Homo sapiens: one gene and its partner. The protein of the gene in region 2 purifies or fractionates together with the protein of the main gene of each other region. This does not show direct contact. Each region holds a gene or a part of one and is shown on either strand. Other genes may lie near its edges.

Evidence for each region.
Region 1: the proteins of STK35 (region 2) and FKBP5 purify together in Homo sapiens (affinity purification with mass spectrometry; 2 studies listed by BioGRID and IntAct, with this or other methods). This does not show direct contact.

The regions. Positions count from the first base shown.
Region 1 is NC_000006.12:35,682,264-35,685,915, forward strand, and holds part of FKBP5 (peptidyl-prolyl cis-trans isomerase FKBP5), read right to left. Parts: intron 1-3,652. UniProt on the Homo sapiens protein: Immunophilin protein with PPIase and co-chaperone activities. Component of unligated steroid receptors heterocomplexes through interaction with heat-shock protein 90 (HSP90).
Region 2 is NC_000020.11:2,104,821-2,108,472, reverse strand, and holds part of STK35 (serine/threonine-protein kinase 35), read right to left. Parts: intron 1-3,652.

The DNA.
Region 1 (3,652 bases), on a different chromosome or scaffold from region 2:
TATCTAACATGGGTAAAGAACATTCCATGCTCATTCAGAATATATTCTGATGCAGACTCAATCTCTAAGATGTTTTCTCCATTCCAAAAAGTAACCTATCGCAGCATTATGTCCATGACTGGGACATCTTGACTTTCAAATTCACTGTGCAATTTTCAGCTAACAATGGAGGAGGTTCTTTAGTTTCCAGAGATAGGAACACTGAGAACAAGTACAAATCTAACTTTTGAAAAGATCAATCTGAAATTTGCAACCCTGCTTTTGATAATGAAATGACCATTTTCTGGGGACTCCTCATTTATAACATCTTTAAATTGCCAAGTTTAAAACAGAATGCTACAAATGATTCTAGAAATTTACCACTGCCCACTTAGGATTTGCAACTACAAAAGGGAAAAAACAACCCTCTTCCAGTCTGATTTTTCTTCATCTCTTATTCTTCTTTCCAAAAAACGAACAATTTCAAAAGGATACAATTCAAATGTACTACATTTTTAAGCCAGGCATGGTGGCTTGGGCCTGGGATCCCAGCACTTTGGGAGGCTGAGACAAGAGGATTGCTTGAGCCCAGGAGTTTGTGTCGAGGCTGCAGTTAGCCACCACACTTCAGCCTCGGTGACAGAGCAAGAAACAATCTCTTTTAAAAAAAAAAAAAAAGAAAAAAAAGTATATATATATATATCCCATTTCTTTTTTAAAAAAAGGTTAAAAACATACGTCAATCTCTTTAAAATGTATGTATGTGTCTGTGTGTATATATATGTCTCTTCCAATCTTTTTCTTAAAAAAAGTATAGAAATATATATCCCAAGCTCTTTCTTTAAAAAAAAAAGTGTGTGTGTATATATATACGTATATGTGTGTGTGTGTGTGTGTGTGTGTGTGTGTGTGTGTGTGTGTGTGTGTGTGTGTGTATTTGAGACTGGGTCTTGCTCTGTCCCCCAGGCTGGAGTATGGTGGCTCACTGCAGCACTGAACTCCTGGGCTCAAGTGATTCTCTTGCTTCACCCTTCCAAAGTGCTGGGATCACAGATACAAGCTACCACACCTGGAGAACTTTATATTTTTTGTAGAAATGGGGTCTTACTATGTTGCCCAGGCTGGTCTCTAACTCCTGGGCTCAAGCAACCCTCCTGCCTTGGCTTCCCAAAGTGTTGAGGTGTTGACATTACAGGTGTGAGACATCATGCCTGGTATATATATATACTTTTTTTTTTATTGAGATGGAGTTTCACTGTGTTGCCCAGGCTGGAGTGTAGTGGTGCAATCTCAGCTCATTCCAACCTCCACCTCCCAGGTTCAAGTAATTTGCTTGCCTCAGCCTCTTGAGTAGTTGGGACTAAGGGCATGCACTGCCATGACTGGCTAATTTTTTTTTTTTTTTTTTTTTTTTTTAGTAGAGATGGGGTTTTGCCATGTTGGCCAGGCTGGTCTCCAACGCCTGACCTCCTGGCCTGGCCTATATTTTTAATCTTATAAAACATTATCAGAATTTGGACATTCCTAGGCTGGGCATGGTGGCTCACACCTGTAATCCCAGCACTTTGGGAGGTCGAGGCAGGCGGATCACCTAAGATCAGGAGTTTAAGACCAGCCTGGCCCTGGCCAACATGGCAAAACCTCGTCTCTACCAAAAATACAAAAATTAGCTGGGCGTGGTGGTGTGTACCTGTAATCCCAGCTACTCAGGAGGCTGAGGCAGGAAGAATCGCTTGAACCAATGGAGGTTGCAGTGAGCGGAGACTGTACCGCTGCACTCCAGCCTGAGCAACAGAGCAAGACCCTGTCTCAAAAAATAATAATAATAAAATAAAGAATTTGGACATTCCTTAGCTTTCACAGATGTGTGACTGTTTACTTAAAAACCCATTATTTCACTTTGAAAATACATCATTTTCATTTTTCCAGTAATTGTATCTTTTTTTTTTTTTTTAAGGCAGGGTCTCGCTCTGTTGTCCAGGCTGGAGTACAATGGCTTAATCACCGCTCACTGCAGCCTCAACCTCCCAGGCTCAAGTGATCCTCCCACCTCAGCCTCCCAAGTAGCTGGGACTACAGGTGTACTCCACCACACCTGGCTAACTTTTGTACTTTTGTAGAGAGGAGGTTTCACCATGTTTCCCAGGCTGGTCTCAAATTCCTGGGCTCAAGCAATCCACGTGCCTTGGCCTCCCAAAGTGCTGGCATTACAGGCGTGAGTCACTGCACCTCGCCACCTTTTTCTAAGAAGAAAAACAGCCTTGATTAAGCCTTGATTTTGATAACAAAAATGACAGCAACTCCAAACAACTACAATCACAATTTTCAATATCTTTTGACTGATTGTTTTAGAGAACTAAAATAAAATCTTATTCTTATTTTTTAAATGTTTTGATTCCAGACCAAGGGTAAAAAACAAATACAACAAATATATAGACCCCACACTCCCTCTGGTGGACCTTCACTTTCATTAACCAAATGTTTTCCAAGAGGCTATAAGTCGGCCTGGCACTGTGGCTCGCACTTATAATCCCAGCACTTTGGGAGGCCAAAGCAGGAGGATCACTTGAGCTCAGGAGTTGGACACCAGCCTGGGCAACATAGTGAGACCTTATCTCTACTAAAAATTAAAAGTTTTAAAAATTAGCCAGGTGTGGTGGTGTGTGCCTGTAACCCCAGCTACTTGGGAGGCTGAGGTGGGAGGATCACTTGAGACCAGGTGGTTGGGCAGGAGGATCTCTTGAGCCTGGGAAGTCTGCAGTGAGCCATGATGACACCACAGCACTCCAGCCTGGGCAATAAAGCAAGACCCCGACTCAAAAAAAAAAAGACTAGAAGTAAATACTAAATTAAGCATAAAATGTAGGTTCTCAAACTACTATAAGAAGTACAAATTATTTTGAGTAGTGGAATTTTAGTGTTCTAAATATTGTTAAAATATCCTTATTAATCTGTTAGTAACCTGCTAGTACATATGGCCCCACTGTAAATTATTTTAGCCAGTCTCATTTGGCAGTACTGTCTTTTACATAGTAAATAAACATCTCATTTGCAAATTAAATTACACTTAAGTGGTTATTGTTTTAAATCAATAGTTATGTGACATACATACCACCACCACCCAGTCGCTACTGAATGTAGATTTAATTTTCTTTATACTTTTGGGGATATGATGTCAGAATTTTAAAATGCACTAAAATGTACTGCAGAAAAATTTAGAAATATAAAATACTTAAAAAACAAAATCTACTAATCAGCTAAGTTGTAAAGTTCAAATAGTTTCAGAATTATAAAATGCAGATATTTGTTAAACATGAATTACAAAATTTAGTGTGCCAATATGTATAATATAGATTATTCTTTAGGAATTATGAAAACTTATTTTAATTAATGGTCTTTAGAGGAATTCTTCATGCCGGGTACAGCAAGCATATTACTGTTAAATAAAGCAATACTAGGCTAGGCGCGATGGCTCACGCCTGTAATACCAGCACTTTGGGAGGCTGAGGCGGGTGGATCACCTGAGGTCAGGAGTTCGAGACCAGCCTGGCCAACATGGCAAAACCCCGTCTCTACTAAAAATACAAAAATTAGCCGGACATGGTGGCGCAGGCCTGTAGTGTCAGCTACTCAGGAGGCTGAGGCAGGAGAATCGCTTGAACCCGGGAGGCAG
Region 2 (3,652 bases):
ACTGATGCGATCTCAGCTCACTGCAGCCTCTGCCTCCCGGGTTCAAGTGATTCTCCTGCTTCAGCCTCTTGAGTAGCTGGGATTACAGGCGCCCGCCACCACGCCCAGCTGATTTTTTGTATTTTTAGTAGAGACAGGGTTTCACCACTTTGGCCAGGCTGGTCTCCACCTCCTGACCTGAGGTGATCCGTCCACCTCGGCCTCCCAAAGTGTTGGGATTACAGGTGTGAGCCACCGCACACGGCCTGAGCCATTAGTTTCTGAGTAAAATATGATTATGCCCATTTTACAACCAAGAAAAACAGAAGAACCTAGAACTTAAGCTACCTGTCCCAGCAGTACCCCACAGCAGTTAAGAAAGCATACTCAAGTTTGAATGTCTGGCCTTGAATCCTGACTTGGTTACTTGCTTAGCTGTTTTACATTGGGCAATTTCACTAACCTTGGTACCTCAGTTGCCTCACCTATAAAATGAAGATAATCACGGTACTGACTTCACCTGATACATAGCAACCTGCAAGTTTCAGCTCTTATTTACAGGGTGAAACTGGGATTAAAACCTTCTGACTCTGAGTCTAGCATTTTATTGTATTGTGTTAACTTATATTTCCCCAATGCCAGCCAGCTCTCTGCCTCTTGACCTGGCGGCTCTCTAAACTCTGAGACCCAAGCCACAGAAGAGGATTCAGAGTTGCTTTTCTAAGGGCTGGGGAGGGAACGGCCTTGCTCTGCTCTGAAGGTTCCCTAGGCACTCGACAAGTTGGGGAAGTTTGCAGGCTGACAACCCATCTATTGCTAAGACCCTGGTCTATCCTATACTATTATAGTTCCTCCCTCAGCTTCTTCCTTCCCCTGCTTCCCCAATGCCCCTAACTAAACTCCCAGACAACTGTACTATTTTCTAAGATGCTACCACTTGTGACCCTGCATTATGTTCATGTGGGCATGCGTCCTCTGCATGCCTCGTGGAGAAAAACTCTGCATGGCCTCTTATAGTAGCCTGGCTCAAAGCCACTTGGTGTGCAGGCAAGATTACTTTCCAAGGCCTCGGTTCCCAGCCACCTAAAGGCATCGACATCAAACAATTGGTAAAGAACAATTAGTGTCTTATCAAGTTGAGTGTAAGCTAGGCTCCCGGCTCTCCCAAACTTCTAACTATTCTGTTATATGAGTCTTGAGAGTTTGTCCTGGATTAGTGTCTGTGAGTGTGTCCTCACTTGCTATTTGTCAGAAGAATCAGTGTGTGCCTTAGACAAAGCAACAGAATTTCTGACTGACAGTGACTCAGGCTTGCCTGCTGTCTAAGTGGCAGTAATCTTGAACTTTGTTTTAGGCACATTCAGGACAGGCATTCTCGCAATGGAAAACAAGGGGATAAAAGCAAACTGTTGATGCCTTCACCCCCCCAACCTTTATGTGAGAAGTATTTCAAAGTTAAAAACATAGGCACCAACCCTTCAACCAAATAATTTACAGGATTGTAAATGTGGTTTTAAAAAGCCTGGGAGGCTGGTTTGAGTGCTATCACTAACTCATTGTGGATAAAAGTTTTGTCCCTTTTCTGGGCTTCAGTTTCCTTCCTTGTGAAACAGGCAGCCAGGTCACACATCTAAGACCTCTTTCTATTCCTCCGAAGCTTCTGCTGTCTTAATGCCTCTGGGTAGGACGTGTTTGGTCTGTGCACAGAATGGAAGGAGACAATGCATTTAAGGCTATCAAACAAAATGGGGTAAGACCAAGAACAGCATTTCAAGACATTTCTCTTTTCGATACTGGATTATTTTACTGGCCAAATAGTGAAACGGACTCCCTTTGTCTCTTCGCCTATCCACAGTCCTAGGCACCCTACTTTCAAGCCCACCTTCTCCCTAACTCCTGATTCTCTTTCCTCTTAATTCTTGTGCAAAGCCCTTGCTTATGAGTTGACTGGTCATTTCCTCCAGTGATCTTGAATAGCATTTAAATCTTCTTCCAGTTCTCAAACTTTTCAAATGTAAGTTCCATTGGGGCAAGGGGTGGTGTGTTTTGCTTTGCTTTTTTTCTTTCCCTTCAAATACCACAGTAGGGACTCAGCATTAGGTTTAGTTGAGACTTCAAGGCAGATTCACACTTTTTGGCCTGTTCAAAATCATTCTGAGTTTTAGGAGGCAGGGCCAAGGGTGACTGTAAAGGACTTTTCTATTTAATGAGAGAGCTGAACCAGGTTATCTCTACGATTCCTTCCAGCTTTAACATTACTGGGTGGTATTTGCATGCTGTAAACCCAAGGCCCCAGGACAGATCAAGACCCCTAAATTTTGGAATCCAGAATAAGCAAAGTTTAACCTGGAGTAATTTTGGTATCTGTTCTCTATTTTAAGAAGCAAAAATGATTACCTATTTACTACTTGAAAAATCCACACATTGCAAGTCAGCTTGAATGTCATTTTCATAAGCAGAAACAACACATATTTTCTTCACTGCTCTGTCTCTGAGCCCTGAACACCGTAGAGGTTCAAATATTTTAAAGACTCCAAACAACTGAAAGGGACCAATCCAATCCAGTGTACGGCCTAAAGCAAAAGATTTCATTTTTCTAGGTCCCAGTTTTAGTTCACAAAGGGAGGATGAAAACACCAGTGTTTCTGTCAACTTGGTGTGCCTGACAACACAGAAAACAAGGTGTGTTCTATGATGAAACAAGTTTGGGAAACTTGAGCAAGAACAATGTGAATCTTGAAGGGGGTGAGGGTAGAAGAGTACAGAACATGGTGTGAACTTATATAAGGCAGTGAATTCCTCCCTATGTGGAGCACTTGCTGACATTAACAGTTTGCACAGTGACCCTATGTACCTAATGTCATAGGTACATACCCACTATCTTACAATAAAGGAATGCTCCTCACAGGGTTCAAACAATTTGCTCCATGTTTTGTGCAGTCAGTCCTGGGATGAGCCAGAGGGTCTAACCCCAAAGTCCATGGTACTAACCACTATGCTATGCTGCCATGGGGTCACTTTGGAATTTTGACAAATTCTTCAGGTGAGGAAAGTCCACATAGTATTTATATGTTGAGAGAGTAAGCAAGAGCTTCAAGCTGAGGTTGAAGGTTCGAGACTGGCGTCAATGAACTGAGGACACAAGGAATAAACATTCGGCAAGGCAAATTCCTACATCCCAAGGCAATCCTGTAGTAGGAAGTCCAGACCATTCATTGGCAGTAAAGGAGAAGACTAAGAGAAGTCTGAGAATAGAAAGACTTCAAAGTAAGTGATGCGCTCCTAGAATATAGGTAAGATAAACGAATCCCCTAGGGAGTCTTTTTTTTTTTTTTTTGAGACAGGGTCTTGCTCAGTCGCCCAGGTTATAGTGCCATTGCATGATAATGGCTCACTGTAGCCTCAACCTCCCAGGCTCAACTGATCCTCCTGCCTCTGCCTCTCAAGTAGCTGGGACTATAAGCCTGTGCCATCAGGTCCGGCTATTTTTTTTTCTATTTTTTGTGGAGACCAGGGTCTCACTTTGTTGCCCAGGCTGTTCCCAAACTCCTGGGCTCAAGCCATCCTCCCACCTCAGCCTCCCAAAGTGCTGGGATTACAGTCGTGAGCCATTGTGCCCTGCTGGAAGTCTTTTCAAAACAAAAACACTCACCCTGGGGAGAGGGTAGGCTTC